Regions from separate parts of the Homo sapiens genome. Here region 1 is linked to region 2. The links come from fine-mapping of genetic effects on gene expression. A gene starts in region 2. The other region holds a variant in brackets. All regions are shown on one strand. Distances are from middle to middle.

Region 1 (5,290 bases), 36 kb before region 2:
TGGGGGCTCTGCGGTGAGGCAGGCAGGGTGACAGGTACACCCCACCCCACCTCCCTAGCCCCACCCTGGCCTCACCAGCCTCATGGGGCAGGTATGGGAAGCCGCTGGTGTTCGACCTGCGAGAGGAAGACCTGTTCCCAGTCGTGCAGCGGCAGCTGGAGGCGGTGCAGGAGAGGTACCTGTCGCTGCTGCGGCCCACGGACGGGCCTGAGTATAGCCCCACGCAGTTCCAGGAGCAGCGGCTGGAGCACTTCCGCCTCTTTTTCGTCACCAAGGTCCAGTGGCCGCCAGCTGAGCAGCTGCAGGTGCTGCTCCCAGTGCGCGTGCAGCTGCCAGGCACAGGCCTCTAGTGCTGGCCCCAGTCCCAATAAAACGTGTGCCCCGGGGCGCGGTGCTGCATCTGTGCTGCGTGCGTGGGGGCAGCGGTGGCGTGTGCCAGTCCAGGACTCCGGCAGTCCCGGGCCCCGGCCGGCGGACATGGGTCTGCAGGCACTTGGGGGAGGCCCTGCTGGGGATGGGCAGCCTGCCCGGCCGACCCGTGCGCAGTGAGGCGCAGCGGGAGACGTGGGAGGGACGGTGAGGGTGCAGCCCTCGGAGCTCAGCCTCGCCTCGGAGGGCAGGAAGGGTCTGTGCTAGTGGGTGGGGGATGGACAGGCAGACGGGAGGTAAAATGTAGTCAACTTTATTCTCCTTAAACCACAAAATAGAGTCTTTGGTTGTACAAACATCACTAGTTACAGTCTCGCCGAGGTCTCGGCTGGGGTGGGGCAGTTAGTTAGTCACAGGCCAGAACTCCTGTGGGGTCTCTTTAAAATGCTAACACCCAGGTTAAAAGACTTGGGGCAAGGGTGGTGCTGGAGCTGGCAGGGCCCCCACCCCAAGTCTGGGGGAGGTGCCTGCTCCTCTAGGAGGGCACAGGGCCCAGGCCACGGCGCCCAGGCCTTACGGGGCGGCGGCTGCTGCACAGTGCCACATCTTCAGGGCCCACAGCGCCGGGTGAGGGCCTGCCCAGAAGCACCAGAGCCACTTCTCCATCCTCCTCCTGCGGGCCTGGAGGGCAGGGACAGGTGGGCAGTGAGCTGAGGGCAGCTGGGCTCCTGGGAGCTCACCCCAGCCCGGCCCCAACTCACCAGGGCTGGGAGATGGTTCCAGGGACCTCAACTCCTCAGCAAAGTCCGGTGACTGTGATGGGGAGAGTGTTGGTCAGGCCGGTGCCAGCCCTGCCCCAAACCACCCAGGTGGACGGGTGGGCTCCCAGCCCTGAGGCCCACAGAGCCCGGCTGAAGGGGGAGGGGGGGTGAAGAGGCAGGGCCACGGCAGAGCGTGGGGAGGCCCTGCGGGAGCGGATGGGGGCGGTGGCAGGCACGGACAGGGTGGCAGGCATGCAGAGGCCTGGAGGCCAGGTACCTGGATGTCATAGACAGGTCTGGAAGAAGGCAGGGCCGCAAAGGCCCTGTAGTCAAACTTCTTTCCAGACAAGGGCTTGAAAGGACAGCGTGAGGGGAGAGGCAGAGAGTGAGAGGAAAGGGGGGGATGAGGGCCACGGGGGTGGGGGCAGGCCAGACCCCACCCCCATGCCTCGGGGGTGAAGGGAAGGCATAGCCACCGGCTCCTCACCAGGCGTCCCGGGGAGGTGCTGGTCTGGGGGCCGAGGTCTGGGGGGACAAGAAGCGGGCATTGGAAGCAGCCCATGCGGCAGGCTGACCCCCCCGACCTGCCCTGACCCACAGACCTTCCACAGGGGTGGGCGACGGGGTGGGCGCAGGGGAAGGGGCCTCGGCCAGTCGCTCCAGGGGCCCCCGCGTGCCCCGGCCTTCCTGGGACCTGCTGAGGACCATCTGTGCTCGGAGAGCGTCCTGTTCCAATGACTTCATCCTGCAGAGAACAGCGGGCAGGGGTGACTTGGGGCAGGAGCAGGGACAGGCAGCAGGGCGGGGTGGCGACCCCACACAGGGGCTCACCTGGCTGCCCTCCACAGCGCACGCTTCTCGGCCTCCAGGGCCCGGAGCTCGGCAGGGGACAGGGCACGCTCGGGTGCCGGTGGCTCCGGACTCTGCACGCGCAGCCGCTCCTGGTGGCGCCGTTCAGCTTTGGCCGTCCGCACCGGGGCGCCACCTCCCAGGGGTGGGGGGGACGCCGGGCTCTGCCTGGGGAAGGGACAGGACGTGCTGTGGGGGGCAGGGGCACGTGGGGTGAGTAGGGGGCGTCTGGTGGGCGGGTGCTCACCTTGAGGTGGGGCTCGGGCTGGCCCAGGGTGGCTGCTCATCCTCCTGTTCCTCCTCGCCCAGCGTCTCCCCGTCCAGGGCGAGCCTCGCTTCGGCCCCAGCCTCTGCCGCCTCCCGCAGCATCTGCGCTCTCTTCTGCTGTAGTTTTCTGGCTGCCGGAGGGCAGGGTGGGTCAGGCCAGACCAGCCGAGACCCAACCCCCACCCCACTTCCGTGCCCCTCACCTTCCTCCTCCTGCATCTTCCGCAGGTCGTCAGCACCCACCAGGGACACGCGCTTAGGGGGGCCCTCGGCCTGGGGCACGCGCACCTCCAGCTCAAAGTACTTCTGCCGCTCCCGGAAGGACAGCTGCTCCGGGGAGGCTGCAGGCCCAGGCGTGGGGGGCTGGGGGGAGCGGACCTTGAGGTTTGGCTGGCATTCCTCCGAGATACTGGGGCCCCCGGGCACCCACCCCAACCACGCGCAGCAGGGAGGCGTGCTGCCCCCACACACCTGGGCAGGGGCATCCTCAGGCGGGTGAGAAGTGGGCACGGCCGCGAAGGCCCTGTAGGCCTGCTTCACATTGGCGGGCAGCTCATCCGGAGAAGGCGGGGAGGGCGGCTGGGGGGTGGGGCTCTTGTGAGCTATGCTGGGGCAGCTGTCGGGGCTGCAGCTGTGTGCAACTCACCACCGGCTGTCCCCCCGCCTGTCCCCCCGCCTGCCTTTGATCCCCACCCACCATCCTGCTGGGGAAGGAGGCTCTGCCACCCCCACCCACGGGACAGAGCACTCACGGAGTGGGGACAACCTCTGCCCCTGGGGGCTGGGGAGCCCCTTGGCCAGGCCTGAGCCAATGGCTGGATCACCCCTGGTTTTGTCTAAAAAAGGCAGGTGGGGGCGGCGGGGGCAGAGGAGAGCAGGATCAGGGGTTTAAGGCAAGGGACGGGGGTAGAGAGGGGGGTGGGAGAGACAGAGAGAGAGAGACCGACCAACCTGGGTGGGGCTGACATCTTGCCTGTGAGGGGCTGAGCTGGGGCTGGGTCTCATGGGGGCTGCCACCTCCACCCCCACGTGGCAGTGTGTTGGGAGGTGCCAACAGTGGGGGGGCAA[G/C]GACCCCCAGACAAAAGGCAGGCAGGGATAAGGTGGGCCCTGGGAGGTGTTGGGCCTGAGACACTGACTGGGGTCTCAGGAGCTTGAGCCCCTCCAGGAACAGCACACTCAGGCCCCCCACCCCATCGCCAGGCAGCTCTGGCCAGGAAAGCGTCCCTGGCCTTCCTCACACAGGAGGCCCCATGGTAGCAGAGGGAAAACCGGAGTCAACAGCACCCCACGATGGCCCCTGACCCCCCATCCCTGGAGGAGGGGCCCTGTGCACAGCGGCCATCTGCCCTGCCCTCCACCCACCATGGGGCACACCCGTTAACTTGGGACACTCACCTGCTGGCCACTAGGGGAGCAGGGAGATTCAGCCATCTTCCCTCCAGCTGCTCCAGACGGTACCTGGAGGAGTAGGCAGTGGGTGGGGTGAGGATGGGCAGGGCTGTGGCCCCCGACCAGGAGGGACTGGGGGCCCTGGGGCTTGCCTAAAAGCCACAGCAGCTCTTCAGTTCCCCAACCTGACTATAGCCCAGGGGATGCCCCAGACACTCGGTCAGCACGGAGGGGCTCGTCCCCGTTCCCACAGGATGCGGGGGCCTGGGCTGGGCAGCTGCTGTCTCCATGGCAGTGTGCTGGCTGGAGCTTTGCAGGAGAGATGGGAGCAGACAGGACAGCCGGAGAAGAGAGCAGGGAGGGCTCGGGGGAGGGGCCAGAGACAGAGGTGATGGTGGGGAGCCCCTACTTGTGGTGTGCAGCCCTCAGGGCTCAGTGGCGCCCTGACTGCTGCCCCCATGACTGTGCTGTTGTTCATGAGGATGAAGGGCCTCCCGGAAGCCTCCCTCTTGGCGCTGCCCATGGCCAGAGGAGGCAGGGTCAGTACCCAAGAGCCCCCGAATGCGCTGCCTCAGATCCAGGCCCTGCCTGGCCCCTCACCACCACCCCACCGCTTGGGCAAGGGCCTGCAGGAGCCACCCCTCGGCACTCACGTTCGGTGGGGCTGGTGGGGCGCACCCTCTGGGAGGGTTATTTGTATCTCTAAGGGGAGGGATGGGCCTGCACATCCTCCTGCCTGTCCCCAGCACCCGCCCCTCCAGCTGCTCCAGCCTGTCCTCCCCTTGGGGACATGTGCCTGCCCAATCCCCCAGGAGCCTCTGCCCCCACTCGCACCCTCTGGGGCTGGGCAGCCCCAGCAGCAGCAGGTGAAGCTCTCGCACCGCCACTAGAGGGATGCCTCGGCCTGTGTCACCCATCCGCAGCTCAGGGTGTGTGGGTGGGGCAGCACCAACATGGCTTGGGTTGAGAATGAGGGTGATAAGCATGTGCCAGGCTGGGGTAGCCTGCAGGTCAGACGTGGCCTCCTCCCACCCCAGCCCCCGCCCAAAGGTTCCCTCCCGGATGGCCCTGGCGTTTGTCCTGGGGTGGCCGATGAACAGGACAACAGGACGGAGGTGGGGGGCACTGCACACTGGGCACTCACCCTCTGCACGCTGCCAGCGCTGGGCACGGCGGCCAGGGCGCGGTAGTCCAGCTTCAGGGGCTGCAGACCCCGACCCTGGGGGCAGAGTGAACACAGCACTAGCAGGGGTAGCTCCGTGGCAGCACCCGGCCAGCACAGGGCAGGAGAGGGGGTCCTGGGGGTTACTACCCAGCACCCCACAGGCAATGTGCACCCCGCTCCAGTGCCCTGATGTGAGGGGGTGGGGCGACCACACTCACTGCGGCTTCTGTGGCCTCGGGCCCCCAGTGCAGGGTCTGTCCAGGCAGCTCCTTCTCCTGTGAGCAGAGCAGAGCAGACCCGTCAGGCACCACCGGCCTCGGGCTCCCTGGCCCTGGGGCTGCCGGCTGCAGGCACCTCTGACCTTGCCTGGGCCCTCAGGGCTCAGCTCCCGGTCGATGGAAGAGATGCTCTCCAGGCTGTTCCGGTGGCCGATGCCTGCCGCAAAGGGGTTGGCAATGACACCTGGGGACACCTGAGAAGAGGGGTGTGG
Region 2 (5,330 bases):
TCTGGGACTGCCTTTCCTCAGCCCAGAGCAAAGAAGAGTATTTCCATCAGAAAACAAGAAAAGCAATGTAGGGGCTGGGCGTGGTGGCTCACACCTGTAACTCCAGCACTTTGGGAGACCGATGTAGCACTTAAGACCAGCCTGGACAACACAGCAAGACGCTGTCTCTATGAAAAAAAAGATTTTTTTAAAAAGTAATGTGGCCAGACGCAGTGGCTCACGCCTGTAATCCCAGCACTTTGGGAGGCCGAGGCAGGTGGATTGCTTGAGGTCAGGAGTTGGAGACCAGCCTGGCCAACATGGTGAAACCCCATCTCTACTAAAAATACAAAAATTAGCCGGGCATGGTGGCAAGCACCTGTAATCCCAGCTACTTGGGAGGCTGAGGTGCTACCATGAATTGCCTGAACCCAGGAGGCAGAGGTTGCAGTGAGCCGGGATCACCCCACTGCACTCTAGCCTGGGCGATAAAGCAAAACTCCGTCTCACACACAAAAAGAAAAAAAAAATAATGTGGAGCGAATGACTGAAGGTCCCAAGGTCTCAAGGCTTCAGGCTCCTCAGCTGGGAATGGGGACGGCCTGTCTCCTAGGGCTACTGTGAAGATTCAGTGAAATCCCAACACGCCCCCAACCCCACAACCTGCAGTCCCTGCACATGGAAAGCAGCAAAGCAAGCCACAGGTTCCAGCACTCATCAGTATTAACAACATCCAGTGTCAGATACCCAGGGCAGAGCTGGCTGCAGGACACTGCCTTCTATCTGTCAGTTCCCTTCACACAATGAACACTGCTTACTGCGTGCCCAGGCTCCACAGTGAGCGCTGCAGAGGCCGCAGACACGAGACAAGAGAGAAAGACGTCTCTCTCAGGAGCCTGGTGTCAGCTGCCAGCAAAGAATGCCAAAATCAAAGATGACTTCTGTGGTTTACCAGCACTACGAAGAAAGCACAGGATAAGAAAGGAGTGGCTATGAGCTATGCCAGGCCATGGCAGCCGGGGGCCTCTCTATGAGGTGACATTGCAGGCTGGGGCCTACAGAAGAAAGGAACTGGAACCCCAAGGGTGATGACCCCAAATGAGAGCTGGTCTGGCTGTCAGTGAAGAGAACGGAGCCATGCGTCAAAGTGAAAAGATGCATCCAGAAGACCTACCCTTGCTGCAAAGAGGCAGCCGGCCTCATTCTGCAGCCACCAGGCAGAAGGCATGCCCATGGGAGGGGAGGCCCTTCTGCATCTTCTGGCTTCCTTCCCCACCAGGCCACTGTCAGCCAAGTTCAGCTGCTCCATTCAACCTCCCATGAGAGCTGAAGCAGCATGAGACAGGGGACAGGCTCTCATCACTGTGCCCAACCAGGACGGTGGGAACAGATAACCCTTCTAGAAGCCTTTCCATCCCAATGATTAAAAGAGGAATGGGTTAGACCACAGGCTACAGCTCACTCCTGGAGCCGGATGCAAGCCTGAAACCTGACGATAAAAAAACACGTATTAAACCCAACAGAATTTGGATGGCAACAAACACCCCAACAGACAACCCGTTCGTGGGGTCAGTTATGGCCCACGTCCAACTCAACAATGACACCACCTATCTGGCACCACGCCACAGCAGACCTGAGCCCCCATTTAACCCTCATGAGCACAGGGCGCTGTTCTGCGGGTGCTAGGGGAGTCAGGCATCCACTCTCCTCCTCCACCTTCCCATGTCCAGTCCTTGTCTCTGAGCCTCCTCCTCCTTCACCATCAACTCTCTGACTGCTGCCTGAAGACAGTCACCAGGTCCTCAACCCTTACATCCTTTCTCTCTGGAGTGCCCCTCAAAGGTCACTTACTCCTGTGGCTTCAAGAGAAAGGACATAGTAGAAAGAGTGGAGTTAGCCAGTCCTGTGAATCACACACTGGGCTGCCCTCGCAAGCTGGGTATCTTGTGTAAATGCCTCTCTCCCCCTAGTAACTGGTTTCTGCCTCAGTGGGACATGGGACCAGCCCGCCCGCTGGGGGCCTGGCAATGGCAGTCTAAGGACACTCCCTGGTCCTGCCAGTCCAGCCTTCAGCCATTTGCCCAAGCTGTCTTCTCAAACAGACCTTATCCCATCCCGCTGGGTGTGGGCTGGGGGAAGGGTGACAAGTAATACAGGGGTAAACTGCGGCTGAGAAAGGTCCAAAAGGGGATTAGGTCCTATAAGCTAAGTGGTGAGAAGGAAAGACCAGACTTCATCGTGCATGTGTTGTGTGCATGGGTGTTCTCCCTCTACGTTAATAACGCCTGCCCTGCCCGGGGAAGTGGGCACTGAGCAGAGCAGGGGGCGACTCACTCCTCTGGATGCCCACGCAGCTCCCTAGGGCGCCCAGCAAATGGCACCCTGGGTGGGAACTGGCTTCTGGTGCGCACTAGACCTCCAACTGCCTGTCTGGTTCCCCACTGCGTCCCCAGATCCTCCCGCAGAGCTGGGGACAATGCGATTTCTCAAAACACGTAGGATGAGAGCGCACGTCCTTCCTTTCCACGTGGAGACAAGAGAATGGAGATAACCAGATCCCTCTCCAGCACCGGAGAACGAATTCACAGCTGCAGGCGTAGTGAGCCAAGGCCGCCCCATGCTCTGAGCTGCAGGCCCCTTTCTACAGGTCCCGTCCCCTTCTGATCCCATCAACCCGAAGGCCCACGCGTCACCCCCAGAACCCCGCTTCCGTCGTGACCACGGCGCACACCCCCGTCGGCAAAGGGAGGACGACGACCCCCGCTTGCCGGACCTAGCGGACAGGAACGCAACCCCGCCAGGCTCGCCCGCAAGGGCCACACGCCGCGCCCAGGCCCCCGCCCCGCCCCGCCGGAAGCTGGGGTCCGCAGGCCGGAAGCTGAGGCCGCGAGCCGGCCGCCGGCGCGCGCCCGCCCCGCCCCCGCCTCACGCGACCCGGGGACACGAGGGAGTCCGCGCGGGACCTGGGAAGACCGCCGCGTTCTTGGGAGGCCCTCCGCGCCCAGGCTGGGTCGACGACCCGGCCCCGCAAGCCGAGGGCCGCCCGCGCTCATGGGGGGGCTCACTTACGAGAGCTATGGTCGCCGTCGCCATCTTGCGTCCGTCGCGGCCTCCGCGCGCGCCTCCCACTCTTGCTCCTTCCGCTGTCTCGCGCGATCTGGGTGCCGGTGCACGGAACTCTCGCGAGGAAGGAGGTAAGAACGCGCTTCCGGGGCGGGGAGGAACGGTAAACGCCCCCGGGAGGGGCGACGGAAGGGGCGTGCTCTTGGCCGGGCGAGGGGCGTGGCCCGCGCACCTCGGGCGTCTAGGGGCGTGCGCCGCGGGACTCGAGTCGGGCGTATCTCTCCGCGTGGCCGACGCGGGCGTGCGTAGTACCCTTCGCCGCCCGTCGCCCTTGCGGCCACTGCTACGCTTCTCTTCTCTGCCTTTTTTGGAGAAAACGCTGTCGCGTGCGTCGTCCAGAGGCTCTCCCCCAGGAGGCAGGCGAAAGAGCGGGGCCCTCCTGGGCTGGAGGAGTCTCGGGTGATGAAAGGCCCGCGTGTTTCAGGCTGACGTCGTGAGATGCGTCGTCCCCGCGTCGCGACATCCCTGGGACCGGGAGGCCCCGTTCAATTGGCAGCTTTTTCTCCTTCCAGGGAACCGATGACCCTAGGTTGGCTGACATCAGTCGCTAGACCCGCAGCCCGCAGGCCCCGTTAGTCCCTGAACTGGCTTTCATGGCCCAAGGTGTCTGTCAGTACTGCTGGGAAAGCTGCCTGTCCTGGACATTTGCCATCTGCTGCACCCAGTCCCGAGACCCCAACTCGGTCATCCGAAGAAGCCACATCTGTAAGCTCAGGCACCTTCAGCTGCCTAAGGCCACAAGGCATCCCGGGCAGGCCTCCTTTCAACCCTGGGAACATTTAGAATTTAATACAGACACTTCTACTTAAATAGGGCAGAATATTCCCCGCCTCCCTCCTGAAACCTTCCAAAATTATAGGAAAGGGGTTTTATAAAGACAAACCCTGCAAGGGCAAAGAGCTGGGATATTGCAGAGCTTAAGAAAGGTGGACAGCGAGAGCTACTCCAGCCCACTTGGCTATGGAGGCCAGTGTCTGAGGGTCGTGGGTGAAAGCACAGCTACAGAAAGGAAACCCCAGACCTCTGTCCCTACCCACCGGGGCTGGCAGGCACTGCAGTGTCTGAGACGTGAGCTCCAGGAGAGGAGCTCTGAGGCCCTGCTCAAGCAAGGCCCTGTCTGAAAGCCTGGGAGTAAGTGAGACTCTGGGTCCTACCCCTGCCTCCACCCCTGGGCTGGGTCTGACCACCCGCATGCCATCAGGCTTCTCAGAGAAGAGGGCTCCTCTCTGCAGCAGCTCCTAGCTCAAAAGAAAAGACTGGCAGGGCACCTAGGGGTAGAGTGTTGCCCAGTAGAATGGCCCAGCCAGATCCCTGGCCTCGAAGCTCACCAGGTCATAAGCCCCAGCCACTAAAAGCATCTCACTCTTCAATGCAGCTGGACAGCCCAGGATCACCAGACACCTGAGAAAGAAGAAAAGGGACTCAGAAGAAACAGAGACGATAAAGGAAGCCGAAGAAAAATGAAAACTAAAATGCCATTCTCAGTCAATAAAAAGGAACTGGGGGCTATAGAGAAAGAAACCTCGGGATGAGAAAGAGCTCTTAGAAATAAAACATGAGGGGAAAGTGAGCAATTCAATAGGCTTTTAAGATGAAGTCTTCCAGAATGTATAATGACAGAACCAGATAGCTGGAAAACAGAATAGCAGTAACACAGGTGGGTGCTCTTAGGGCTAGCCTGGCACACAAGGCCTCCACAATGGAGGGGGTGGATGGGAGGTGGGGGGCTGGTCTGCCACCACCACCAGGGGAAGCCACAGGCACCACCCTCTGGGGACAGCTTCCCTTGGCAATAATGTGCACGCAGGATGCATGGTGCCCAGGACTGTTCTTACACACATTCATTCATGGGATCCTCACAACCCAGTGCTATGCAATGGATACAGCTGTTACCCCATTTTTACTGATGGGCAACATCACAAGGCAGGGAGCAGCAGTAGAATGGCTCCAGAGCCTGTGTTCTTGCCACCACCATGACTGCATCTCAAAAGAGAAGTCCAGGTCAGGCACAGTGGCTCATGCCTGCCTTCCCAGCACTTCAGGAGGCTGAGGCAGGAGTATCACTTGGGCCCAGGGGTTCAAGACCAGCTTGGGCAATATAGTGAGGCCACGTCTCTACAAAAAGTAATTTTAAAAAACCAGCTGGGCATGGTGGCACACGCCTGTAGTCCTAGCTACTAGAGAGGCTAAGGTGGGAGGATTGCTGGAGCCCAGAAGGTGGAGGTTGC

Alleles and levels. Positions count from the first base shown, and alleles are read on the strand shown. Sizes are in standard deviations (SD) of each study's normalised expression.
For the expression in breast of the gene that starts at base 3,084 in region 2, allele G in region 1 goes with a lower level than allele C (small effect, 0.16 SD a copy in GTEx).

The links. PIP is the estimated chance that this variant, and not a neighbour inherited with it, causes the effect.
Region 1: its variant is the best candidate, but not a certain one, in a credible set for the expression of PUF60 in breast (GTEx, PIP 0.85).

Annotation. Positions count from the first base shown.
Region 1 is chr8:143,790,259-143,795,548 of GRCh38, forward strand. IQANK1 (IQ motif and ankyrin repeat containing 1) reads left to right here. Exons shown (of 14, transcript NM_001381874.1): 13 at 1-13; 14 at 92-387. The coding sequence ends at 350. It overlaps SCRIB (scribble planar cell polarity protein), which reads right to left. Exons shown (of 37, transcript NM_182706.5): 25 at 5,162-5,272; 26 at 5,019-5,075; 27 at 4,780-4,854; 28 at 3,642-3,704; 29 at 2,718-2,825; 30 at 2,450-2,609; 31 at 2,227-2,377; 32 at 1,962-2,147; 33 at 1,733-1,875; 34 at 1,618-1,655; 35 at 1,408-1,482; 36 at 1,131-1,182; 37 at 667-1,050. The coding sequence ends at 905. Among named protein-coding and RNA genes, the nearest start is that of MIR937, 20 kb to the right of the region's middle. The variant G/C (reference allele first, on the strand shown) is at 3,315.
Region 2 is chr8:143,826,232-143,831,561 of GRCh38, forward strand. PUF60 (poly(U) binding splicing factor 60) reads right to left here and starts at 3,084. Exons shown (of 12, transcript NM_078480.3): 1 at 3,049-3,084. The coding sequence starts at 3,072. LOC107986985 (a long non-coding RNA gene) reads left to right here and starts at 3,049. Exons shown (of 3, transcript XR_001746138.2): 1 at 3,049-3,173; 2 at 3,615-3,807; 3 at 4,478-5,330. It also overlaps a transcript of NRBP2 not described here. RefSeq lists a silencer at 2,802-3,371 and enhancers at 3,156-3,855, 3,176-4,375.